7 linked regions of the Homo sapiens genome follow. The protein of the gene in region 1 purifies or fractionates together with the protein of each later gene. This does not show direct contact. Each region holds a gene or a part of one and is shown in the gene's direction. Other genes may lie near its edges. The genes, in order: SCYL3, FARSB, NCAPD3, CNN3, CCZ1B, UTP6 and TGFBRAP1.

What was found.
Region 2: the proteins of SCYL3 (region 1) and FARSB purify together in Homo sapiens (affinity purification with mass spectrometry; one large-scale study listed by BioGRID and IntAct). This does not show direct contact.
Region 3: the proteins of SCYL3 (region 1) and NCAPD3 purify together in Homo sapiens (affinity purification with mass spectrometry; one large-scale study listed by BioGRID and IntAct). This does not show direct contact.
Region 4: the proteins of SCYL3 (region 1) and CNN3 purify together in Homo sapiens (affinity purification with mass spectrometry; one large-scale study listed by BioGRID and IntAct). This does not show direct contact.
Region 5: the proteins of SCYL3 (region 1) and CCZ1B purify together in Homo sapiens (co-immunoprecipitation; one large-scale study listed by IntAct). This does not show direct contact.
Region 6: the proteins of SCYL3 (region 1) and UTP6 purify together in Homo sapiens (affinity purification with mass spectrometry; one large-scale study listed by BioGRID and IntAct). This does not show direct contact.
Region 7: the proteins of SCYL3 (region 1) and TGFBRAP1 purify together in Homo sapiens (co-immunoprecipitation; 2 studies listed by BioGRID and IntAct, with this or other methods). This does not show direct contact.

What each region holds. Positions count from the first base shown.
Region 1 is NC_000001.11:169,891,097-169,895,236, reverse strand, and holds the start of SCYL3 (protein-associating with the carboxyl-terminal domain of ezrin), read left to right. Parts: upstream 1-1,340; 5' UTR 1,341-1,449; exon of another isoform or gene 1,450-1,761; intron 1,762-4,140. UniProt on the Homo sapiens protein: May play a role in regulating cell adhesion/migration complexes in migrating cells.
Region 2 is NC_000002.12:222,646,093-222,649,592, reverse strand, and holds part of FARSB (phenylalanine--tRNA ligase beta subunit), read left to right. Parts: intron 1-797; coding exon 798-853; intron 854-1,467; exon of another isoform or gene 1,468-1,752; intron 1,753-2,596; exon of another isoform or gene 2,597-2,792; intron 2,793-3,246; exon of another isoform or gene 3,247-3,500.
Region 3 is NC_000011.10:134,157,968-134,161,467, reverse strand, and holds part of NCAPD3 (condensin-2 complex subunit D3), read left to right. Parts: intron 1-1,393; coding exon 1,394-1,576; intron 1,577-2,972; coding exon 2,973-3,139; intron 3,140-3,400; coding exon 3,401-3,500.
Region 4 is NC_000001.11:94,924,311-94,928,552, reverse strand, and holds the start of CNN3 (calponin-3), read left to right. Parts: upstream 1-1,442; 5' UTR 1,443-1,658; coding exon 1,659-1,715; intron 1,716-1,812; exon of another isoform or gene 1,813-2,193; intron 2,194-2,783; exon of another isoform or gene 2,784-2,920; intron 2,921-3,205; exon of another isoform or gene 3,206-4,242. UniProt on the Homo sapiens protein: Thin filament-associated protein that is implicated in the regulation and modulation of smooth muscle contraction. It is capable of binding to actin, calmodulin and tropomyosin. The interaction of calponin with actin inhibits the actomyosin Mg-ATPase activity.
Region 5 is NC_000007.14:6,816,276-6,819,775, reverse strand, and holds part of CCZ1B (vacuolar fusion protein CCZ1 homolog B), read left to right. Parts: coding exon 1-10; intron 11-3,500.
Region 6 is NC_000017.11:31,895,209-31,898,708, reverse strand, and holds part of UTP6 (U3 small nucleolar RNA-associated protein 6 homolog), read left to right. Parts: intron 1-3,500. UniProt on the Homo sapiens protein: Part of the small subunit (SSU) processome, first precursor of the small eukaryotic ribosomal subunit.
Region 7 is NC_000002.12:105,309,236-105,312,735, reverse strand, and holds part of TGFBRAP1 (transforming growth factor-beta receptor-associated protein 1), read left to right. Parts: intron 1-3,500. UniProt on the Homo sapiens protein: Plays a role in the TGF-beta/activin signaling pathway. It associates with inactive heteromeric TGF-beta and activin receptor complexes, mainly through the type II receptor, and is released upon activation of signaling.

The sequences.
Region 1 (4,140 bases):
GTGTAGCCATCCCTTACTTGCAGTAAATAGCTTGGTGTGCCTAATTTCAGGGGATCCCTTTCTTAAGTCTTCCTATAGGCTCAACACTTTCTGGCAAAACTTACTGCGGTCAGCTGAAATACGTTTTCTGTTCATGTCTCCCACCCACAAATGTAATGCCTTTTCCGTCTTTTGCTGTTGCACCTCAAACTACAAAAGTTACAGCCACAGTGCATGATAGGTGCTTAGTTAACTAGCACGAATCTTTTTCCTTCTTCACAATTTCATGGATAATTTGTTCTTATCATAGATTTTGGCAACCTCAGCATATGACTCTTTTTCTTTCCTTATTAAGTCCAGAGCTTTCACCTTTTCATTTAAAGGAAGCACTTTACAGCTTCTCCTCGGCATATCCAAATTGTCAGCACAATTCCTGTGCTTTGCGGCCATTATTAAGTAAAATAAGGGTTACCTGAACATAAGCAGGTGGTATCTCTCATTATCTCTGCTATACTACGGGTGCATCTGTTAACCAAAGCAGCTACTGAGTGGGTAATGAGTGGATACTGTACACAGCGCGGCTACCTGCGACAGATGATTCGCGTCAAGGGTGGGACAGAGTGGATGGCCCGAGATTTAATCGGGCTACTCAGAATACAGGCGGTTTGAAACTTAAGAATTGTTTATTTCTGGAGTTTTCCATTTAACATTTCTGAACCAAGGTTTGACCACAGGTAACTGACACTGCAGAAAGCATGGAGGGGGGCAAAACTACTGCATTAATATTAAAATTTTCAAATATTACTTTTTGCTAAATGAAATGTGATTCAGGACCTTCCCTCTCAAAGATCAAGCGAGATCACCACGACCTCCGCCAGCAGCGGCTCTGCACGACTCCACCCTCGCAGCCCAGCCAATCAAAGCTACAGGTTGAGTGACGTCACTCTCCTGAAAGTCCTCGCTAATTCCCGTACTCCTTTTCTCCGCCCTGCACCTCTACTGTTTGCTACAAGTGGCCAGCAGCCATTTTGGATTTGGGCGGAAATGAAATTAAAACTGTGCTGTTAAAAGCCTAAAAATTCAAGTCAAGACAAACTTAAGCATTCGACCAACACATCTAGAAAGGGGGCATCTTCGTGGACTAACTAGACCACTGGGGCAGTGAGTGAAACTCGGTATCGTCGCGGCGCCCACACTTAAGATGGCACCGGCCTGAGACTCAGCTGTGCGGCCTCTCTACCTCGGTTCCTGGTTAGTTGGCCTCATTGGTGGCGTCGGAGGGAGGAAGGTGGGCCTTCTGTCCCGTTTCCGGACCCGTCTCTATGGTGTAGGAGAAACCCGGCCCCCAGAAGATTGTGGGTGTAGTGGCCACAGCCTTACAGGCAGGCAGGGGTGGTTGGTGTCAACAGGGGGGCCAACAGGGTACCAGAGCCAAGACCCTCGGCCTCCTCCCCCGCCGCCTTCCTGCAGGTAACAGGGAGCCCTGCGCTGCGCCCCCAGTCCTTGCAGGACTGCGCCGTGGGGGAAGGGGCCGGGCGGGGAGGAGGCGGCGGGCGCGCGCCCCGCTCGCGGGTCTGCGCTCTGGGGCCCGCGCGGGAGCGAGCTCGGCGCGGCGCCGGCGGCCGGTTGAGCTGTGCTCTCAGCTTCGGAGCAGCCTCCCCTTGCTGATTGTGGGGCGCCCTGTAATCTGCGCTTCGCGGGCGGCCCCCGACGGGTGAGGCGCCCGCGGCCAGAGCTCTCCAAGGCGGCCGCGGAGTCGGTCCTCGCAGGGAGGTGTGGAAGGTGAGGGGCCAGCGAAGCGAGAGCGGCGCCTCGGCCCTTCAGTGACCCCGCGGGGTCGCGGCAAGCAGGGCGAGGGTGCTCGGCTGGGCGGGTCACTGTCCCGGGGCGGCAGTGCCCGAGCCCGGGGGGATCCTGGGGGCGCGCCCGCCCTCGGGAAGGCGGCCTCATTCTTGATCCAAGACCAGTGCCCGTCCCCCAAGGCCCAGCTGGCTCCTGTCTTGGCATAGTGCTTTCTGTTTAGAATAAAGATGAAACATTTCTCGGAAGAGCATATTCAGGAATCCATGTGAAATTCTCGGAGTCGGGTCTCGAATTTTGGGGGTCACTGTTAACTGCTGTTTTTAGGGACCCATGTTCTTATAAAATGTATCTTGAGCTGAAATCACAATTATTTTGGTCCATAAAGACTTAATTGTGTATTGCTTGTCAGCTAGCAATGCTGGACTGAGTTCCGCAGAGGGAATATATACCTGAAACACGAAAGCAAGGGCCGGAGTAACGTTACCGCTGGATACCAGAATATCAGCCAGTACAGTGCATCCTTAATACTCAGAGTGCAAGCCATTATCTTTGGAACTTTCAAGCTAAGGGAGCTAGGACCAAGGTAGTCTCGAGTAATTGCTGGGAAAAGAAAATATTTGGTAGAAACATTTCCATAGAGCACACGGGTTTCTTAGTTGAGTGTATGAGTTGCCCTTTGACCTAGACAAGGGTTTTCTTAATCTACAAGCGGTCCAGAAATTTTATGTGCTGCCCAAGTAGGCAAAAGAGTGGAGGGAGATTATTAAAGGGAAGACTGATGCATATTCAAGTCAGAGACTGTCAACTCAGCATTTTATTATAGAGTGGAGATGCTAAGTGCTACGAAATACCTATTACGGGATACTAGGATATCCTTTTCTACCTTCTTGTGACTTTTTAATTTCAAAGCTAATGAGCAAGATTTTGTGTTTTCCCCGTCCTCAAAACAACAGGAAAGCATTTTGGAAGGCCAAGTGTTTTTCTTACATTTCAATAAATCAATTTTAGCTGAATTATCATTTTTAAAGCACTGGCGGGCATGGTGGCACATGCCTGTAATCTCAGCAACTAGGGAGGCTGGGGAGGGCAGGTAGCTTGAGCCCAGGAATTCCAGGTTACAGTGAGATAGGATAGCGCCAATGCACTCTAGGCCAGCAGCAACAGAACAAGACCATATCTCTATTTAAAACAAAAAACAAACAAAAAAACTTCTTCATATAACAGTATTTGTGCTTCTTTAGATATATTAGTGTGAAGAATTACTGCTTCAAAACATTCTCAAATTGCAATAATCAGCACACCTTTTTAATTTTCCCCCAATAAAGTTTGCACTGGGAACATACAATATAATCTTACCACTGTCAGTATTACACTGATGGTATCAGTGGACTTCTGTCAAAGTTAACATGCTTTCAAAACAAGAAAATGGCATCCTTTCCAGTTCTCTCAAGAAATTGAGTCATCCCTTTTTAATTTTTAAGTGATTTTTTTAGTCTTAGACCTAAAATACAGTAAGAAAAATGAATTTTAACTACTTCCTAATGCTTTTATAACTTTGTTAATTATAGTGGAATTCATATGAAATCTAAGGTTAATAGCTATTGCAAGGCCAATGTTCCCACAAGGAAGTATTTTGCTATTTAGAAATAGCTAAGTAAATTAAATGTTCCTTTCTCTTGCCTCTGGTGACTGCCATTCATCAGCCAGAGCACTGACCCTGAATCCTGGTGGCAGTCTTATCTCCCATGAGGATTAATATTAACACTTAAATAAACAGCATGATTTCCTGCGAAGAAGATATTCATTAATATACAGTCCCTTATTCTCTGCTTTTCTCTTAATTGTGTGTTGATTTTGGAAAGCTGTGTTTTGTGGGTGAGAGAGAGACGGTCAGACTAGCTTCAGATACTTTCAAAGTAACACTTCTGTAACTCACTCTTCCAGTCTGACTGGCTTTTCAGGCAGGAGTTGGAGACCAAGTAGAGCTTTCTGCCTATGAAATGGCAATTAGTTTCAAAGAACATAGACCCATTCAAGTTACCTGAGGAAAAGGGGGCTGGTTGTAAGGGTGTCAATGGGATGTTAGGGTATCTGGGTGGAATTAGATTTGAGGCTGGGCTTCCGGTAGTCTTGAGATGGATAGTAGTAATGTGCCCCCTAAGTATGACTAAGCTACGGTCCCAGTGTTTGCTTTTTAAAATTTTACTACCAACTGACTTCCTCTGGAAAGTTTCTGACTTCATGTGGCTTTGGTTTGCCGTAGCTCCACCTCCACCTCATAGCATCCTTCTACCTTCGGCTATGCTTCTAATAGGCAAAAATTGTTCTTAGTTCAAATTCCTGGGGGAGACAATGATC
Region 2 (3,500 bases), on another chromosome or scaffold:
TACCAAGAAAGTTTACATAAGGTGCCAAACTCTCAGATCTAATAAGTGGGATAGAATTCAAACTCTGATTGACTTGGCTTCAAAGCCAAAAGTGTCAGGCCACCTCAGACCATTTTACCTGATAGGACTTATGTGACATTCTGTTGTGTGAGATCTGTGATTTGGAGCCTACTTTATATCTGATCTCTACTTAACAGGTGAACAGGTGTTTTTCTTCTGTGTACATGCAAACTTCCCAGTGCAGGTAACCTAAACTACAGTTGATATTAGTGTAGATTAATCAAGCCTTTAATAGTTTTTTCTTTTTTTTATCTTAAATTTTTTTGGCCCAGCTTTTTTTTTTTTTTTTTTTTTTTTTAATTTTTTGAGACGGAGTCTCGCTCTTGTCAGCCAGGCTGGAGTGCAATGTCATGATCTCGGCTCACTGCAACCTCTGCCTCCCAGGTTCAAGCAATTCTCCTGCCTCAGCCTCCCAAGTAGCTGGGATTACAGGCATGCGCCACCATGCCTGGCTAATTTTGTATTTTTAGTAGAGACAGGGTTTCACCGTGTTGGCCAGGCTGGTTTCAAACTCCTGACCTCAGATGATCCACACACATTGGCCTCCCAAAGTGCTGGGATTACAGGCATGAGCCACCATGCCTGGCCTGTTTGTTTTTAAATGATAATATGTGATGCCTGATATTTAGTAGTATGATTGGTGTAAGGCAATTAGTAATAAGAAAATGCAGTTTGTATGTAGTTTTCACTTATACTGAACAGAGTGAAATTAACCATCTCCTTTTTTATTTTCCTAGCTGACGAAGAATTTGATGAACTATGTTTTGAATTTGGTCTGGAGCTTGATGAAATTGTATGTATTGGATATTTGTCTATTTTTCAAAGATTGTGTGCATAAGCTTATTTTTCAGGGTTATACTGTATTTCATCTTTGTTACCTTATAGTTAGACTAAGGTGATAATGTTTGTGGGCCATGATTTCTGTGTTCAGAGGGCTAAGCTCCATGTCTGTCTGTTGCCTTGACTAAAATCTCAAAAGGAGTTCATGCCTTATTCCATCTACAATCACCTTGTTACCAGGCTCATGCTGTGGAAATGGATAGAATGTGTTAGATAACCCCAGTATGAAAGTAAGCTCCCTCCTTTGGCAAATTAATCACAGAAAGGGACCAAGAAGCAGTAGAAATGTTGCTTCAACCAGAGTTACCCTGCCTCCTTCACTTCCAGCGCCTCCTCCTTCAGCTCCTCTGCCCCCATAACCTTCCTCCGTGCCTCTTCAACCAGTACTAATGCATTACTATATTCATTGGTCTTGTAAAATGAACTAATATTTTTTAAGGACTTGCTTATAAAAATGAGGAAGCATTTTCTTTGACTTTTGATTGTATAATGATTACAATATTTAAAAAAATCAAGTCGGCTATACATTTTAATATTGTTAATAATGATTATCTATTAAAGACATACTTTAATTTGGTGGGGTTGGGGGTCTGAGTCCTTCCTCGCGGGGGCTTGATGGGTCCTGAGCATCCTCTGGCCGGGGTTTCTGATCCATCTGCTCCAGCATAAGTTCACAAAGTACAGTCCGCAGGCCAGCAGCATCATCTGGGAACTTAGGAAAAAACCAGCCCTACTGAACCAGAAACTGGGGATGTGGCCCAAGCAACCTTTTACCAAGCCCTCCAGGTGATTATAATGCAAGGAGAGACGAGGTTTTACCATGTTGGCCAGGCTGGTTCTCGAACTGCTGACCTCAAGTGATCCACTGCTTTGGCCTCCCAAAGTGCTGAGATTACAGGTGTGAGCCACCATGCCTGGCCCAATGTGCTTTATATAGTTTCACTCTGTTGCCCAGGCTGGAGTGCGACAGCGCGATCTTGGCTCACCACAACCTCCTCCTCTTGGGTTCAGGCGATTCTCCTGCCTCAGCCTCCTGAGTAGCTGGGATTACAGGAAGGAGTCCTTATCTTGGACCTGAGGCTGCTTTCTTGAAGAAAACTTGACTTTATTTCATTTAGTGGGAAGAGCAGCAGCCCAGCTAATAAGTTCTAATATGCAATAGGCTGCAGGCTGTGAAGTCTGAAGCTAAGGAGCTGAGGGCTTAACAAGTTTCTAGAAGCTGCCATCAACATGCCAAGTCAGTAAAACTGAAAGCTGGTCAGATTTCAAGGTCTGGGGAGGAATCCACTGCATAGTGGGTCTTGAGCTCTAGAGAGCTAGGCCTTGCTAAAATAAAAGAATTACCTTACCTACCATCTTTGTTCCAGGCTCCGTAGAATTTGTGACAGCCCTGGCTGACCTCCGAGCAGAGGCTAGCTGTCCCATCTGTCTGGACTACTTGAAAGACCCAGTGACCATCAGCTGTGGGCATAACTTCTGTCTCTCCTGCATCATTATGTCCTGGAAGGATCTAGATGATAGTTTCCCCTGCCCCTTTTGCCACTTGTGCTGTCCAGAAAGGAAATTTATAAGCAATCCCCAGCTGGGTAGTTTGACTGAAATTGCTAAGCAACTCCAGCTAAGAAGCAAGAGGAAGAGGCAGGAAGAGAAGCATGTGTGTAAGAAGCATAATCAGGTTTTGACTTTCTTCTCTCAGAAAGACCTAGAGCTTTTATGTCCAAGGTGCAGTTTGTCCACTGATCACCAGCATCGCTGTGTTTGGCCCATAAAGAAGGCTGCCTCCTATCAGGAAAAAACTGGAGCAATACAATGCACCGTGGAAGGAGAGAGTGGAACTAATTGAAAAAGTCATAACTATACAAACCAGAAAATCACTGGAACTGAAGAAAAAGGTAAAACATACGGCAGAAGAAGTCAAGTCTGAATTTGAGCAACTTAGGTTATTTCTGCAAAATGAGCAAGAGACTGTTTTTGGGCAATTACAAGATGACGAGATGGATATTTTAGCACAACTAAATGAAAGCCTAACAAAATTTTCAGATTATACCTCCTCATTAAAATATCTACTAAAGAAGATAGAGAGCATATATGTGAAGTCAGAACTGGAATTACTGGCTGATGTTAAGGATATCTATCACAGACATAAGAATTTAAAATTCCCTAAACCTTTTTTATTCAAATTAAAAGAATATGGTTACCATCTGTCTCCACAATATTGTGGCCAAAACAAAATTATCAAGCGATTTCAAGTAGATGTAATTCTAGATCCTGAAGCAGCACATCGTAAACTTATAGTCTCAGAAGATAGAAAAACTGTGCGATATGGAAATACAACACAAAACTTACCTCATAACCCAAGAAGATTTTATCTGCTCCCAGCTGTTCTGGGTTCTAAGGGATAAAATTGTGGCAGGCAGTACCGGGAAGTAGAAGTTAAAGACATGCCTGAATGGATTCTTGGTGTCTGTAGTGACTCTCCTCCCACAAGGAGGAAGAGTCAACCAATTTTAGTACAGGATGGATTATGGAGAATTTGGTAATCTAGTCGGAATAATTATATTGTATTGGGCCATAAGGAAATTATTCTGCTGCCAAAAGTA
Region 3 (3,500 bases), on another chromosome or scaffold:
ATGCTGCTTGGGGGTAAGGTGAAAGTGAGTCTTCGGGTTTGATTTCAGGGTGCTTACCTTTTGCACTGACTCAGATTCACAAGGTCAGGAAATAACTGCCCTGCAGGAGCTGCCTTCGGAGCTGCCATCACCAGGCTGAATTCTTTGTCAAGCAAGGGGACCATGAGGAGCTCAGTCGGAGCAAACCCAGGATGTGTTGACTTGCAGGGCGGACCTAAGTGGGGCCTCAGACCTTTCTTGCAAAATCTTTTACTAAGAAATAAATGCAACATAGTTTTTCTTTAATTCAGCAGTTATAGCTCTGTTCACATTATGTGTTTTTCTTCCTCAAAAAAATGCTACAATTTTTTTTCCAATAAAGGCCTCAACAAAAATTACATTGAATATAAATTTTCAAATAGCTTTTTATACTAGGAAGCCAAGGTAGGAAAGATAGTCTCATTGTATGATAAAAATAAAAACTTCCAAATATTCTTGTATTTATTGCCTGACTTTAGACCCTAGAAAGGAAAAAAAAAAACAAAAACAGAGCTTTGATCCTACATAGACTACTTAAACACTTAAGAAAAATAAGCCTTCCTCCTGCTTGTGAGCACACACACAGGATGGCCACACGTTGCTTGTTGTCAGTAGCTTGAGGGAGTCTCTTCATTGGCCTGTGGAACCCACTCCTAGTGGCAGCTGGAAAAGTGCATGGATTCCTTCTCTTTGTTGAGACTTCCCTCCCAGTTGGAACTGCAGTGTCTTTTTCTCCCTATTACTGTTAGGTGGAATGATTCTTTCTCTTAGCAAAGTGGTCTTGCCCCTGGCACCCCTCTTTAAGACCTAAGAATGTTTTTCCCTAGGTATGAGAAAAGGTTTTCTGTAAAATCTTCAGAAGAAGACACAAAGATGGGATTTGAGCCTTAGTTGGAATCCCCTGAGAGCCAATGGGGAGGCTAATGTAGACAGATGAGCAGCTTTTAGATCCATGCATCCTGGGACTTGCTCCAGAGGCTGTGTCTGAGCATGTCTTTCTCCCATTGGGAACCTGGGAGAGATTGCCCATTAACTGCCACATAGCCAGGATGCTTCCTAAGAGAGAGAACTGTTAGTTACTCACATATTTTTCTGCTTGTGTGGCCAGTGGTGTTTGCTCCAAATATACCATTGTACCTGTTAGTTACTGGAATGGAAATCATCTGCTTTCAGTAATGTCAGTCCTATTGTTCCTATGATTTATCAAGCAACATGACTTGGGGGGCTTTTTTCTTTCTTAACTTTTATTTTGCGTTCAGGGGTACACGTGCAGGATGTGCAGGTTTGTTACACAGGCGAAGGTGTGTCGTGGGGGTTTAGGGCTTTACGTTTTTATTCAAGAAAACATGAAAGGATGCTCCTGGCTCTGTTTCAGGAGGTGATGCAGGATTACCGAGATGAGCTCAAGGACTTCTTTGCAGTTGACAAACAGCTGGCATCAGAGCTTGAGTATGACATGAAGAAGTACCAGGAACAGCTGGTCCAGGAGCAGGAGCTAGCAAAACATGCAGATGTGGCCGGGACGGCTGGAGGTGCTGAGGTGGCACCTGTGGCACAGGTAGGTGTGGGGCCCACTGCACTGTGACCAGACAGTCCAGTCTGCTGTCTGCTACCAGTCTGTCGTTTGTCTGGCACCTCTCAAGATCTCCGTCATCAGAGGTTAGTCAGCCCGAAGGCCTCGAGAGTGCTGCTTGTTGGCCACTCCCTCGTGCCTTTCTGTCTGTGATGGATTTACTGTGCTCCAGACCTCCCTTCCATGAGGACGTGGTGCAGGAAGCGAGCTGGCAGCAGCAGTAGCTGGTGACTATAGATCCTAGGTCTGCCAGGGTGTGTCAGTGTGTCCGCATCTTCCCCCAGCACTCCCTCTTTAGAGCAGACCGGCACACGGCCATTTCTAGGAGTAGCTGTTGCTCACCGTCCTGAGGAATGCAGGCAGATCTCTTGTAGGAAAGACCAATGAGCACAAAGTAGCATACTCCTTTTTCTCTTCTGTCATGCCACAGCATCTACAAGTGGCAGCTTTCTCATAGTATTCTGTTTCTGAAAAGGAAATTCAACTTACCCAGGGTTGATATGGCTTCAAAGTACATTACTTATGGACTTGCTCATAGTACGTGAAGATTCTATTCCAATAAAGTGTTAAAATGGAGAAAGGGAATGGCTTGTACACTGTTGGTAGGGATGGAAAGTAGAACAGCCACTATGGAGAACAGTATAGAGGTTCCAAAAAACTAAAAGTAGAGGTACCATATGAGGCAGCAGCCTCGCTGCTGACTGTATAGTCAAAAGAAAGGAAATCAGGATGTCGAAGACATACCTGCACTCCCATGTTTATTGCAGCACTGTTCACAATAGCAAAATTTGGAAACAAATGTCCATCAGTGGATGAATGGTAAAGAAAATGGGGTGCATATACAGTGGAGTACTTTTCATCTATAAAAAGTGAAATCTTGTCATCTGTTGCAACATGGATGAACTTGGAAGACATTATATTAAGTGAAATAAGCCAAACACAGAAAGACAAAGATTGTATGTTCTCATTCATATATGTGAGCCAAAAAGGTTGATCTCACGGAGTTAGAGAGTGGATTTTTGGTGATTACCAGAGGCTGGGAAGGGGTGGGAGAAGGGGGATGAAGAGAAGTTGGTTAATGGGTACCAAAATACAGTTAGATAGAAGAAATAAGTTCTAGTATTCAGTACAGTGGAGATATTACAGTTTAACAATTTACTGTATATTTCAAAGTACATAGAAGAATTGGAATGTTCCCAACACAAAGAAAAGATACTCACGTTTGAGGTGATGGAGATGCCAATTACCCTGATTTGATCATTACGTTGTCCACATGTATCAAAATCTCATATGGACCCCCAACCATGTACAACTATCATATATCCGTTTTTGAAAACTTAAAAAGTATTAGAATGTACATACTCTTTATCTTCTCTACCAGGTTGCCCTGTGTTTAGAAACAGTGCCAGTTCCTGCTGGCCAAGAAAACCCTGCCATGTCACCTGCCGTGAGCCAGCCCTGCACACCCAGGGCAAGTGCTGGCCATGTAGCAGTATCATCTCCTACACCTGAAACAGGGCCATTGCAGAGGTTGCTGCCCAAAGCCAGGTAAAGAGCCCCTGGAGGCCACATCAGGGCTGGTTCTCTGTGGCGATGTTCTCAGAGGCGTCCCTGCCATTCCCAAGCGTGGGCAGGAAAGTCATTGTCATTGTCTGGCCTGCCACCCCGCTCCACACTGTGCCCTGGGAGGTTTGAATGAGGGTGGTGAGGGATGCGCCGGTGAGGAGGCACGCGGGGACACAGTGCAGCACTGTCACCTCTGCAGTGGTCTGCAGTGAGAAAGTCAGCGGCTGTGGCTGTTCTCCACAGGCCCATGTCCCTGAGCACCATTGCAATCCTGAATTCTGTCAAGAAAGCCGTGGAGTCAAAGAGCAGGCATCGGAGTCGGAGCTTAGGAGTGCTGCCTTTC
Region 4 (4,242 bases), about 75 Mb from region 1:
AAAAAACTTTGGATTTTTTGTAGAGACAGGATCTTGCTATGTTGCCCAGGATGTTCCTGAACTCCAGGCCTCAAGCAATCCTCCCACCTCGGTCTCCCAAAGTGCTAGGATTACAGGCATGAGCCACCACACCTGGTTCACCTTACTCACTTCTATTCCAGGACGGTTCAACTATGATGTTTTGGCTCCTCTTCTCAAGCAGCTTTCCACACCTGGTTCCATGATCTCTTCTGGCACAGTAGCTGGTATTTGGCAAACATAGGTTTCATCCTGGGATCTCAGGGATTGAAATCTGTCCTAGGTGTGCACCAGAAAGTGGTGGCAAGAGATGAAGCTTCGGAGGAGGCTGACCTCGGCCAGGATTCTTAAGTCTCAAAGTTTCAGCTTTCTCACCCCTCAACGGACATGAAATCTACCTATTTGTAACTCCAGGGAAGTAAATGAGATAATGTTTGGAAGATATCTAGTCTACCAGCTGCTCAGGCGGGGGGCGAAGGTTCTGTTCCCTGTCCCTTCTCTATCAAATGGCTTTAAAATCAGAAGAAAGTATTACGGGTAGGAAATGGGACTGCGAAAAAAATGGAGGCTGATTCTGGCCTAAAGGATACTTATCTCTATACAAAGGGCTTCTGATTCAAAGAGGCCCCGGGATTCAAAAACACAAGCAGAGCTACACCACGTGGGGTTTGGGACGAGCTGAATTCCGGATAAAGATGCCTGTAAAGAGGAGTTGATGCGAATCCAGAAAAGCACTTGAAATGCCCAGGCTTTGCATGGCACATTCCCCAGGATTTTTTCGCACCGCATTTAGAGGTTTAGACGGAGTGAGCTCGAATCAGGCCAAAAGCCTTAGGTTACTCCTGGGCGGCAGCGGGGCAGAGGTCAGATCAACAGGTGTGGAAGGCTGCGAGGTGAGGGAAGAAGCAGGTGTCGGTGGAGGCCCCAGTTCCTCCGGCCCAGAGGCTCCAACGCTGCTATTGGTGTTCCAGCAGCGGGCGGAGGGGTCCTGCCCGGCATCTGGGCGCGCTGGGCCCAGAGCCCGGGAGGAGGCAGACGGAGGCGGCGGGTCAGCGGCGGGCCAGCCCCGGTGGGCTTCCGCTCCCCTCCGCCGGCCCGGTCCGGCCCGCCGCGGAGGATGCCTGGAGGTTGACGTGAATGGCCTGTGGCTGGGAAGCCCCCAGGCGCCCTGCCTAGCCCGGGGGCGGGGCCGCCTAGCCGCCGGCCCCGGTGGCGTGAGGGCTGGGGCGGGGGCCGGGGACCTCGCGGGGAGGGAGCGGGAGGGAAAGCGGCCCCCGCGGCCCTTCAATTGGCCGCACCGCCCCTCGGCGCAGAGGCGGGAGGAGGCGGCCCTCCATTGGTCGGGCCCGGCGGCCAATCCTCGAAGGCCCAGGCGGAGGCGGGGGCGGCCTGTGGGGAACCGAGGTGCGGGCGGCGAGCGAGGCAGCCGGGTGCTTCGCAGCGGAGCTCGAGGCTCTGTAGCACCCAGTTGGACCCAGTCGCCCAGGCACCGCCCGCGCCCCGCGGCCGTCTCCTGCGCCTCCCAGAGGAGGGAGTTCGAGCATCCCCCGCGGCGGCCACTCCTCGGGGCCAGGAGCGGGGAAGCGAAGTGCGAGAGACCCCGGACCCCAGCGCTGTCTCTTCCCGCCGCCCGAACCACCATGACCCACTTCAACAAGGGCCCTTCCTATGGGCTCTCGGCCGAAGTCAAGAACAAGGTACGCCTGGCTCGGGCGGGCGCGGGGGCCCCCGGGGCACCCTTGGGCTGGCCTGGCGCTGGGCCGTGCTTCGTTTGCTCTTCGCGCTGTGGCTCACCGTTTTCCTGGAGAGGGGCCGTCGAGGCGGCGCGAGCGTCTCTGCCTGTCCCGGTCGCGTCCAGTCCCCGGGCTTGCGGGGCCGGCTCCCGGGCACCCGCCTGGCTTTGTTCCCGCGCCGTGGGACAGGACTAGTGGCTGGCGGTGGGTTCCCGGGCGCCTGGAGTCCCGCGGCGCCAGCCTTTCCGGCTGCGGGGGTCTCGGGGGCCGTTTGGTGACTGCAGAACGCGCCCTCCGGGAAGGGGGCGCTCCTGCGTGGCCACTCGCCCTTAGGCGGAGCCCGTCTGCGCGGCCAGGGACCCGGCGAGCCGCTGCCGCAGCCCCCGCCATCTGCCCGGGCCCCGGGTGCTGGCGGACTCCGCGCCTCCCCACGGGGAGAGAGACCGCCTAATGTCCCGCCGACCCCAGGGGCCCCGAGGAACGGAAGCCGGTCCGGGACCCATCACAGTCTCCGATCTCGGTGCCTGGGAGGCATTTGGAGGCAGATTGCTGCTGCTGCTTCTGCTGTTGCTTTTGCGGGAAATGGAGACAAAGCCTGAGCGCGCCACTGTGCGAGTGATATCTGCTTAGGCTTGAGACTTTTTATGAAACACTGAGAAGTTTGAAGTACATTAGACTTTCACGACATAAAGGATTATTTTTGTGGGTTGCTTTTGTTTGGGGCTTGTTTGCTGAGGCGGCTTATAGTTTGGAGCGATTGGGATTTGGTGACGCTCAGCTTTGCCACTGAGCCCAAGAATGCGTTAGGTTTATCTTTAGGACTTTTGGCCTGGGAAAGAGATGAGAGGCGTCCCCCTCCCCAAATCCTCTCCTTCCTTCCTCCCTCCCTGCATTCCAAGCCCATGACATCAGGGGTTTCTGGGGGGAGAGACCAGCCAATCGGCGCGGAACTGTGCACAGAACGCTCATTGTCTCCTTTCTGCTGTTCTGGCCAAAGCGCCACAAAGGAGGGCTGCCTGTGGTTTAATTCCCATTAACCTCCCGGGAGCCCAAGCATGTCAGGATTGCCACCGCACCGTCCGACCGCTGGTGGAAGGCACTGGCATTGTCAGAGCTGGAACATCCCGGGGCTGCGGGGGTAGGCGGTGTGAAGCGAATTATGTAAAGAGGTAATGAAGCGCACCGTTGTCAAACCCCAAGGGAGAGTTGTGGCTCTTGTCTCCCGCTGTTAGTCTGCACATCATACTGTCTTTGAAGCAAGGAGTTGATTTTAGTCTATGTATCTAAAGTTGAAATGTTTAGGTCCTTTACCTTTTCAAACGTGTTGCCCGTATTAGACAACAGTTTGCTAACAATTTTTTTAGAGAGCAGAAAGGTGAATGGTTTGTGTATGATTGAGTGCAAACCTCACCAACTGAAAAGTTTGTAACAAGTTACTGTTTCCTTCCTTCCAGGATTTACAAACCGAACTTTAGGAAACTTCAGAGGAATGGGCATGTCCAAAATGTTGGATGTGATGTGATACTTTGGCCTGGTTGTGCACATTCATTGTAATTCCCCCCAGTGATTCTTGGCTGGCAGCAGTTGAGTCTCTACTACCTTTTGCATTGTAAATGAGGTACTGATAACGTTGGCAGCCCTTCAAGTGACTTACTTTTCTTGGATGTTAATAATATCCATGCTAATTTCTTTTTTGCTGACTAATGTAGCAGCTTTTGCCCTTTTCCTGCTTAATACTGAGCAGATCCAAGGAAATGCATACACAGGCTAGATCACTGTAATTATTGTAAATATTTAAAAACGGTAAAACCTCAGTTTTTAGAACCTTTGGAAAGTTAGTTATGAAAGCTGTGGATTTATCCCTTTAAGCACCAAACCCATTTTTTAATAACCCGTTTCATTTTTGTAGTCCTTTCAGACAGTATTCTTTCATAGGAAGTCTTTTGATCTTAACAGCAGAGCAGTCCTGTAAGGTGAGGAGGATTGCTGGGATTATCCAACATCATTTACAGATCAGTACACTGAAGCTCAGAAAGATTTGCTCAAGGTCACAGAAGTTGGACTATTCTAAGAATTTTAACTCTAAAAGCGATGTCTTAGTTGAGTGAAGTACTTAGGGATGTTCTACACAAACTCTGCTGTCTGTCGCCTTCCCCCCATTTTTTTTTCTTTCTTTTTTGAGACGGAGTCTTGCTCTGTCGCCCAGGCTGGAGTGCAGTGGCGCGATCTCAGCTCACTGCAACCTTCGCCTCCCAGGTTCAAGTGATTCTCCTGCCTCAGCGCCCCGAGTAGCTGGGATTACAGGTGCCTGCCACCATGCCCGGCTAATGTTTGTATTATTTAGTAGAGACAGGGTTTTGCCATGTTGGCCAGGCTGGTCTCCAACTCCTGACCTCAGGTGATTCCCCCTGCCTTGGCCTTCCAAAATGCTGGGATTACAGGCGTGAGCCATGGCGCCCAGCCCTTCCTCCCATTTTTGCTACCCACCTGT
Region 5 (3,500 bases), on another chromosome or scaffold:
AGCTCATCTGGTAGGTACACCCCGAGGCATGGTATTAAAAGAAGAAATTAAGATAATAAAAACAGCAGTGACTGGATTGATGACAGGTTGTCAAACAGGAACTTGCAGCGGGGAGGATGGGTAGGAAGCATCTTCATAGATATTGTCAAAATAAAGCAGTGATTATTTAAAGCAGAACTAGGGTGATTTGGGTTCAAATTTCCAAGCAGAGGAGTTTAAAACTGGCTGCATGAAAGATGAAAGGCTGGGCACGGTGGCTCACACCTGTAATCTTAGCACTTTGGGAGGCCAAGGCAGGTGAATCACGAGGTCAGGAGTTGGAGACCAGCCTGGTCAACATAGTGAAACCCTGTCTCTACTAAAAATACAAAAATTAGCTGGGCGTGGTGGTGCATGCCTGTAATCCCAGCTACTCAGGAGGCTGAGGCAGGAGAATCACTTGAACCCGGGAGGCGGAGGTTGCAGTGAGCCGAGATGGCACCACTGTACCCCAGCCTGGCAACAGAGAGAGACTCTGTCTCCAAAAAAAAAAAAAGAATGTTCCTATCAAGTAAGATTTAGGAATCCTGTTTTTATTTTGGAGTTTTTTTTTCTGAAATGATAAATGTTAAAAGCAGAATTTTTATACCTTTTTTTTTTTTTTTTTTTTTTTCTTATAGAGATGGGGTTTACTGTGTTGCCCAGGCTGGTCTCAAACTCCTGGCCTCAAGCGATCCACCCGCCTCAGCCTCCCAAAGTGCTGGGATTACAGGCACGAGCCACTGCACCTACTTTCTTTTAAAGAAACTAGATTTTTTTTAATCCAAGAAATCCAAAGTGTTATATAAACCAGGAAATTACCTGCTATCGTGAAACTAGGTTTGTGTCCTGCAGTAGGAACAACGTGGGCACAAGACTGCCCAGCATATATGACCCCTGAGAGCTGGGTGGCAACCGAGGTTGTGCACATTTGGCCTAGAGTAGGTGGACAGAAGTCATCAAGGCTTGCAGCTGTTCCGGGACCCTCAAGTTTTATGTTCCCATTGACTAGAGCCCTCTTTCTTTCTTTCTTTCTTTCTTTCTTGTCTTTCTTTCTTTCTTGTCTTTCTTTCTTTCTTTCTTTCTTTCTGTCTGTCTTTCTTTCTGTCTTTCTTTCTTTCTTGTCTTTCTTTCTTTCTTGTCTTTCTTTCTTTCTTTCTTTCTGTCTGTCTTTCTTTCTGTCTTTCTTTCTGTCTTTCTTTCTTTCTTTCTAACGGAGTCTCACTCTGTTGCCAGGCTGGAGTACAGTGGCGCGATCTTGGCTCACTGCAACTTCCCCTTCCTGGGTTCAAGCGATTCTCCTGCCTCAGCCTCCCAGGTAGCTGGGATTACAGGCATATGCCACCATGCCCGGCTAATTTTTGTATTTTCAGTACAGACAGGGTTTTACCATGTTGGCCAGGCTGGTCCTAAACTCCTGACCTCAGGTGATTCGCCTGCATTGGCCTCCCAAAGTGCCGCGATTACAGGTGTGAGCCACCGCACCTGGCCTAGCCCCGTTTCTTAATTAGGGGTGTGGCCATATGGTACTACTATAAGGTAAGTTCAGCTAATAGAAAAGGCAAAACTAGTTCCCCTAAAATTTACCTTCCCTGCCAAAATCTTGTAGCTCCATTTTAAGAAGAGAAACAAGTTACTGTAAAGAAATTTGAATCCAGTTAATAAACAACTTGGTGGGTTTCCACATGAACTTTATCTCCTAGGAAGACAACACAAATTTCAGGTGAAACCCATCTACTTTTTTTTTTGTTTTTGAAATGGAGTCGCTTTCTGTTGCCCAGGCTGGAGTGCAGTGGCATGATCTTGGCTTGCTGCAACCCCTGCCTCCTGGGTTCAAGCAATTCTCCTGCCTCAGCCTCCCGAGTAGCTGGGATTACAGGTGAGTACCACAACACCCAGCTAATTTTTGTAGAGACGGGGTTTTACCATGTTGGCCAGGCTGGTCTCGAACTCCTGACCTCAAAGGATCCGCCCACCTCGGCCTCCCAGTGCTGGGATTACAGGTGTGAGCCACTGTGCCCGGCCTCCACCTACTTTCTAATTTGACAAATAGTTTATCAGGCAACCTTACGCTGTACTGACTCAGCTATAGTTGCTTTCTGTGATATGTACACAATGTTACTAAAGTGAAATTCTGCTGTGAAATGTAGGAGATGGGAGGCTAGTTGTGCTTCTGTAGCATCAGGTCTGCAGAGGGATGGCTCCTCCACAGATGGAAATGACAGGACGTGCTTGCAAATCACACGCAGCCACGGCGATAGGGAGATGTCGTGTGACAAGCCAGAATCCAGCAGTAGTGGCCCATGGCCTTGCTTCCACCAAAAAGAGAAGGGTAGCTGAGATTCTGATCTCTGGGACAGAACACAAGCCCCGCCATGGGTGCAAACTCCTGAGAGTGAGGAAGAGGGAAGGCTTAGAGCAGAGGGTCTTCCAGGAGCTCATTCTGGGAGACCCTGGAGCCAGAGTGACCAGCAGCGTTGGCCCTTTGAAGCCTGGAGTCACAGGACAATCTGGCGCCCAGCTCTGGGGATCCTGTTGGCATCGTCATCTTGGAATAGCATCTGAGGGGTTGAGCAGGGCACAGCTCTGGTGGCTGCACAGAACTGCTCGGTTGTCACCTCCAGTGTGCTCGTGGGGAAAGGTCAGTCCCAGGAAGTAGCAACAAAAATAACCTTCAAGAAAAACAGCCTCTTACTCCAGGCGCCAACGCTTACACCTGTCATCCCAGCACTTTGGGAGGCTGAGGCAGGAGGATCACTTGAGACCAGGAGTTCAAGACCAGCCTGGGCAGCATAGTGAGACTGTATCTCTACAAAAAATGCAAAAAAAAAATTAGCTGGGCATTGTGGTGTGCACTTAGAGTCCCAACTACAGAGACTACAGAGGTTGAGGCTGGAGAATCACTTGAGCCTGGAAGTTTGAGGTTGCAGTGAGCTATGATAGCACCACTGTACTCCAGCCTGGGTGACAGAGCAAGACCCTGTCTAAGAAAAAGAAAAACAGCACGTTTTGATGGAATTGCTTATTCCAAAGCTGTTATATTAAATACCAAAAAGACTTTTAAGCCAGGCGTGGTGCACATACCTATAGTCCCAGCTACTGGGGAGGAGGAGGCAGAAGGATCGCTTGAGCCAGGAGTTACTTGGAGACCAGCCTGGACAATATAATGAGGCTCTGTCTCTACCAAAAAGTGGAAAAAAAACATTTGTCACAAGCAGAGTATATATTACCCTTATGTATTTACTTAGTATATTGCTTTGATTTTTTTTTTTTGAGACTGAGTCTCATTTGCTTGGTTGCCCAGGCTAGAGTGCAGTGGTGTGATCTCAGCTCACTTCAGCCTGCGCCTCCCAGGTTCAAGCGATTCTCATGCCTCAGTCTCCCAAGTAGCTGGGATTAGAGGTGTGTGCTATCAGGCCTAGCAAATTTTTATATTTTTTAGTAGAGACGGTGTTTTGCCATGTTGGCCAGGCTGGTGTTGA
Region 6 (3,500 bases), on another chromosome or scaffold:
TAATTGAAATAGAGTCTCTCTGTGTCACCCAGGCTGGAGTGCAGTTGCACAGTCTCTGCTCACGCTCACCGCAACCTCCGCCTCCTGGGTTCAAGTGATTCTCCTGCCTCAGCCTCCCATTCCTTCACAAATTTAAAATCAGTTCTAGAATGATGAGCTTAACATCAAATTTTTTTTTTTTTTGAGATGGAGTTTCACTCTTATTGCCCAGGCTGGAGTGCAGTGGTGCGATCTCGGCTCACTGCAACCTCCGCTTCCTGGGTTCAAGCAGTTATCTGCCTCAGCCTCCTGAGTAGCTGGGATTACAGGTGCCCACAACCACGCCAGGCTAATTTTTGTAGAGACAGCGTTTCACCATCTTGACCAGGCTGGTCTTGAACTCCTGACCTGGTGATCCACCCGCCTCGGCCTCCCAAAGTGCTGGAATTACAGGCATGAGCCACCACGCCCGGCCAACATCAGTTTTTTAAAAAAATTAAAAGAATTCCAGAAACGTTCATTAGATAGATATTTCTGAACAGGAGTAGCATTGGGAGTAGCATTACTCCACTAAGACTGTAGTCCTGGCCAAACTGAACTTACTTTTCCCCTCCTCTTTCTCTCTTGTCGTTTTCTTTCTTTTTTTTTTCTACTGGGTTTGTAGATCAGAGATTGTCAGAGACATAGTGTGTATCAGGACTTCAGCAAGAGATTTGCCTCTTGGTGAGCAAGATAGAGGAGAGTGAATGTGATGAGTGTAGAGAATTGAAAAGTTACTGCTTGTTTATCTATTGTCTGTCCACTTGGAAAGAGGTGTACTGCAAGATTTTTTCATCTTGTAAATGCATGGAAGGTTTGAATAAAGAAAAATTATGTCAGACCAATTTTCCAGTGGGGGAGAATAGCTAATATGTTGGATGACGGAATCAGGATTCAGAAAGAACCAATAACAAGATCACATGTTTATAAGACTAGAAGTTTTGGTTGGGCATGGTGGCTCATGCTGTAATACCAGCACTTTGGGAGGCTGAGGCAGGCAGATCACCTGTGGTCAGGAGTTCGAGACCAGCCTGGCCAACATGGTGAAACCCCCATCTCTACTAAAAATACAAAAATTAGCCGGGTGTGGTGTTGGGTGCCTGTAATCCTAGCTACTCAGGGGCTGAGGCAGGAGAATTGCTTGAACCCAGGAGGTGGAGGTTGCAGTGAGCCAAGATTGTGCCATTGCACTCCCAGCCTGGGAGACAAGAGCGAAACTCCATCTCAAAAAAAAAAAAAAAAAAAAAGACTAGAAGTTTTGAGCTTAGATTTAAAAAGACAAAAGACAGCCGAACAAACAATATATGAACCTTGGCTAAGCTATTGTTTTTGGAAGAGGTCCTATGAGTAGATTGCTCACTCAAAATGAGCCAAGACCATATTATGTCAAAAATAGATTTTTTTTTTTCCAAATAATACACTCACTCTTGCCCAGGCTGGAGTGCAATGGTGCGAGCACTCATTGCAGCCTCGAACTTCTAGGCTCAGATGATCCTCCTGCCTCAGCCTCCCAAGTAGGTAGGACTACAGGCTTGTGCCAGATGGCTGGCTAATTTTCTTATTTTTTGTAGAGATAGGGTCTCCTTATGTTGCCCAGGCTGGTCTTGAACTCCTGGGCTCAAGTGATCCTCCTGCCTTGCCGTACCAGAGTTTTGGGAATTACAGACTTGAGCCAGTGTGCCCAGCCAAAAGATTTCTTAAAGCTAAATTAGACTGTGAAAGCACAAACCATGAGAGAAAAGACTGATTTATTTGATTGTGTTCAAAATACAAATTTCTGGAGGGGCGTGGCGGCTCACGTGTGAGACAGGCAGATCGCTTGAGCCCAGGAGTTCAAGACCAGCCTAGGCAACATGGCAAACCCCATCTCTACAAAAAATACAAAAATTAGCTGGGCATGGTGGTGCACACCTGTAGTCCCAGCTACTCTGGAGGTTGAGGTGGGAGGATCAGTTGAACCTGGGAGGTGGAAGCTGTAGTGAGCCATGATGGCGCCATTGCACTTCAGTCTGGGTGATAGAGACCCTGTCTCAAAAAAAAAAAAAATTTTTTTCTGTGCAAAAAAGACACTACAAATAATGTGAAAATACAAGCCACAAAATGTGAGAAAATATTTACAACACATAATTAGAACTACATATACACATATATAAAGAACTGTAAATCGAGAAGAAAATGAAAACTAAAAAGAAAAATGGGCAAATCATGTGAACGTGAAAGTCACAAAGGGGAAACATCACTTGTAGTTAAACTTATGAAAAGACATCAGCCTTATCAGTAATTAGTTAAATAAAGATTAAAACAAGGTGTAGGGGCCGAGCGCGGTAGCTCATGCCTGTAATCCTAGCACTTTGGGAGGCTGAGGCGGGTGGATTACTTGAGGTTGGGAGTTGGAGATCAGCCTGGTCAACATGGTGGAACCCCATCTCTACTAAAAATACAAAAATTAGCCAGGCACGGTAGCACGTACCTGTAATCCCAGCTACTGGGGAGGCTGAGGCAGGAAAACTGCTTGAATCCGGGAGGCGGAGGTTGCAGTGAGCCTAGGTTGCGCCACTGCACTTCAGCCTGGGCGACAGAGCGAGACTCCATCTCAAAAAAACAAACAATAAAAAAAAACCAGGTGTAGGACTGCTTTATATTCATTATAAGAGCAAACTTTTTTTTTTTTTTCTTTTTTGAGATGGAGTCTCGCTCCGTCACCCAGGCTGGAGTGCAGTGACATGATCTCGGCTGACTGTAACCTCTACCTCCTGATCAGCCTCCCAAGTAGCTGGGATTACAGGCACACACCACCAGCCTCGGTGAATAGGGATATAGCTAAAGGGATAATGTTGAGTAGAAATATGGATTGATGGGCCGGGCACGGTGGCTCATGCCTATAATCCCAGCACTTTGGGAGGCCAAGGTGGGTGGATCACTCGAGGTCGGGAGTTCAAGACCAGCCTAGCCAACATGGTGAAACCCCATCTCTACTAAAAATACAAAAATTAGCCGGGCATGGTGGCAGGCGCCTGTAATCCAAGCTACTCGGGAGGCTGAGGCAGGAGAATCTCTTAAAGCCAGGAGGCAGAGGTTGCAGTGAGCCGAGATTATGCCACTGCACTCTAGCCTGGGCGACAGAGGGAGACCCCGTCTCAAAAAAACAAAACAAAACACCTATGGATTGATGGATGTAGCATGATACCATTTATGTAAAATTTAAAGGCATTCAAGACATCATTATAATAAAGTCCAAAGTCATGTTTGGGAATGATAACAAAGTCAAGGTAATTGCTGCCTCTGGAGAGGGAGAAGAGTAGAATCAGAGATAGGTACATAGGTAGCTTCATTTTTATACGAACTGTTTTATTTCTAAAAAAGATTTGAAGCAAATGTAGTGCAATGTAGGTTTGGTGTAGCTGCATTGTAGCTGCATGGGGTGTTTTATATGCTTGAAATATTTCATGGAATAATTTTTAAGTGAAGCATGTAATTATAAG
Region 7 (3,500 bases), on another chromosome or scaffold:
AGCATCTTTAAAGATGCTGACTAAGATTCTGACTATCACCAGTGGCAGAATCTTTAAAATGACAATGTGCATATTCTTAACCTGGTAGGAAATAATTACTAATATTTTTATTTTGACCCTTAGCATGTATTGCTTTATACTATTACTGATTTATTTTTCTAGTCCTATTTCCTTAATAGGACGGGGAGACTCTTAGGAAGTGGGATTGTGTCTTGTAATTGTTTAGTTTTTTGCAAACTTAGAGGTGCTTGCTGCATATGCAAGGTTAGCTTAATTAAATTATGGTCCTTGAGCATCCTAGCATTTTCCAATCTCTTCCCTACCTGGGTATGTATTTTGAAATTTTAAGAAAACATTAAAATGTTGATCTTTTAAATTATTATAATCATACTTTTAAAGTGAATTTTTTAAATTTAATATTCTTATTTTTTTTAAAAATAGAGACCAAGTCTCAATATTTTGCCCAGGCTGGTCTTGAACTCTTGGGCACAAGTGATCTTCCTGCCTGGGCCTCTCAAAGTGTTAGGATTATAGGTAAGCCTTAAAGTGAAGTTCTAACAAAAAGTTTAAATTTTCGATCATTTTGAGATCACACAGTAAAGTATGAATTTTACACCTTAGAGAAACGTTTCCTTTTGAAACATTACCATGTTGAAACTTCTCTGATTCAGAACCCCAGCAAGTTATATTTAATAGAGGTGTGGCCTAAAGTTTATCTTTTTATGATTCATATTTTATCTAAGTAAATATATCATGTGAATTAGATCATGGAGAGAATTTTCCCACTGCTTAAAAAAAATAGTTTTTTAAATTAATTTTTTTTTTTTGAGATGGAGTTTTGCTCCTGTCACCCAGGCTGGAGTGCAGTGGTACGATCTCGGCTCACTGCACCCTCTGCCTCCCAGTTCAAGCGATTCTCCTGCCTCAGCCTCCTGAATAGCTGGAATTACAGGTGCCCGCCACCATGCCTGGCTAACTTTTTTTTGTGTGTGTATTTTTAGTAGAGACGGGGTTTTGCCATGTTGGGCAGGCTGGTCTTGAACTCCTGACCTCAGGTGATCCGCCTGCCTCAGCCTCCCAAAATGGTGGGATTACAGGTGTGAGCCACCACTCCTAGCCAATTTTTTTTTCTTTTTTCTTTTTTTTTCTGTGTGAAAGCATCTCACACTGTTTCCCAGGCTGGAGAGCGGTGGTGCAATCATGGCTCACTGAAGCCGCAAACCACTGGGCTCAAGCAACCCTCCTACCTCAGCCTCCTGAGGAGGAGGGAATACAGGTGTGCCCCACCAGGTCTGGCTAAGTTTTTATATTTTTTTTGTAGAGACAGGGTTAAGGATAAGTCATTTTTAAGTGCTAGCATGTTACTTCTTCAGCTTTCATTTACCTCCATGTAATTCTGCATTATTACCATTTAATTACCAAAGCAAGTCCTTAATTTAAAGGCCTATAATAGGAAGCTTATCTTTAGCAAGGCTTGAATAACAGTTTACTAGATAATGAAACAATATTGCATTTGTTTTTAAATATTATAGAGTTATGACTTTTTAGTAAACCATATGTTTTTTTGTTTTTTGTTTTTTTTTTTTTTTTACAGCTCTCTCTCCCTCTCCCCTTCTCTATCTACCCCAGGATTTAGACTAAATATGAGGCGTTTGATTCTTTCTATAATATTCTTTACTGCAAATGTGTTTAGTTTATCCCTTATGCTAACTGAAGACAGGGGCTGGAATTATGAATATTATACTTTTAAGAAGCTAAATAAAAGGAGTTTGATTGTAGGTGCCCAGAGTTTGTTTCTCTATTCCTTCCGCAAAGGGAGACACAATTTATATTTTAAATGGCAGAACTGCTTACTCCTGCCATTTAAAAAAGACAACCCTGATTGATTAATCAATGAAGGAAGAAGTATTTTGTATTACTTCACTTTCACTAACTTAGATGTCTGGAAGCTGACATTTCAATATCTGGGTTTTACTCATTAGCTCTTAAATGGAGAAAAAAATGTTGTCTAGGTGGGTTTTGGTGGTTATGTTTGGTTGGGACAAATACATGATGTTGTTTAAGAGCTGTTTGTGCCAGAGACTATTTGTAGAAGCCTGCAAGAGTTCTGCACTCGGCCTCACCTGGGATTCTGGGGATGTTCCCACAGCCCCGAGGTAGATGGACATGATTCCTTCTCTGTGGTGCCTTTAGAACCTCCCTCTACACTTCCCCCAGCTCTTTTCCATAGTTTCTGTGAAGATGAGCTCCCGTAGGTGAGTGTGAAGATGTCTTAGGGGTGGGGCAGGTGTGTGAGTGTGTGTTCTGGCTTATGATGCAGGCTGTGTTTTGGCGGAGGTGAACAGGTTACCCATATCTGAGGACAGAAGACAGCATAGTCTAATCTCTTGGTGCCCAGCTTGGGAAATAAACACCTGAAGCAAGCTGGTAGTTTGAGAGAGGAGTGAGAGCTGATCCAGACTGGGAGGGAATCATAGTATTTATGATGAGATCCAAAAGTTTGAGTGCTGTGTGCCAGCTGTCCGCATTTTATATGAGGTCACTTACTTAATCGTCCAACAATCCTATGAAGTAGGTACCGTTATTCTCATTTCACAGATGAGGCAGTTGAGGCTGGAATAGCCAAGTGTCCATTCCAGCTGCTGTAACAAACTACCATACACTAGGTAATTAATAGATAATAGAAATGTATTGCTTACCGTTCATGGAGGCTGGGAAGTCCAAGATTAAGGCATGGTAGGCTCAGTGTTTGGTGAGGGCCCATCCCTCAGGGGTGGTGCCTTGCAGCTGCCTCCTCACATAGTGGATGGAAGGAACAAATAAGCTCTCTGGGGCCTCTTTAATAAGGGCACTAATGCCATTCATAAGGGCTCCACCCTCATGACCTAATCACCTCCCCACCTCCCAACACTACCACTCTGGGGATTAAGTTCCAACATATGAATTTTAGGGGGACACAGACATTCTGACCATAGCACCAAGTAATTTGCTCAAGTGATGGGAAGAAAACAGGAAGGACTGATGTGTCTACAGACAAGCCTCCTCCTCAACCCTGGGGTATCCTCCCTCCTGGGGGTTTTGTAGAGCTAAGGAAGGGGGCTGGAGTCTCACTTGTGTGTAGCTGTCATTGCCCCCATGGATGGGGGCAGACACAAAATTGTAGAATTCCAAATTTTCTATTTGAAAGGCACCAAAGAAGTTCTCTGATTCCTTCCCTTCCCTGATGCGTGAACCTTTCTTGAATATTTCTGAGAGGTCTTCCCTGCTTTGCTGGAATGCCTCCAAGTATTAGGAACTTAAGCTCTCATGAAGCAGCACTGTTCCATGTTCAGACAACTTGAGATGAGGAAGTGACAGTGATAGCAGCCTTTCACTTCAAGCTCTCTGAACATGCAGCAGTGCTGACGCAAGCCCAGCCAGCTGCCCTGCAGCTCCCGTCATTCTCTGCAGTCCTCTTTCCAGCTCTCTGATCCCCTGCCCTGCTCCCGCTCACAGGGACT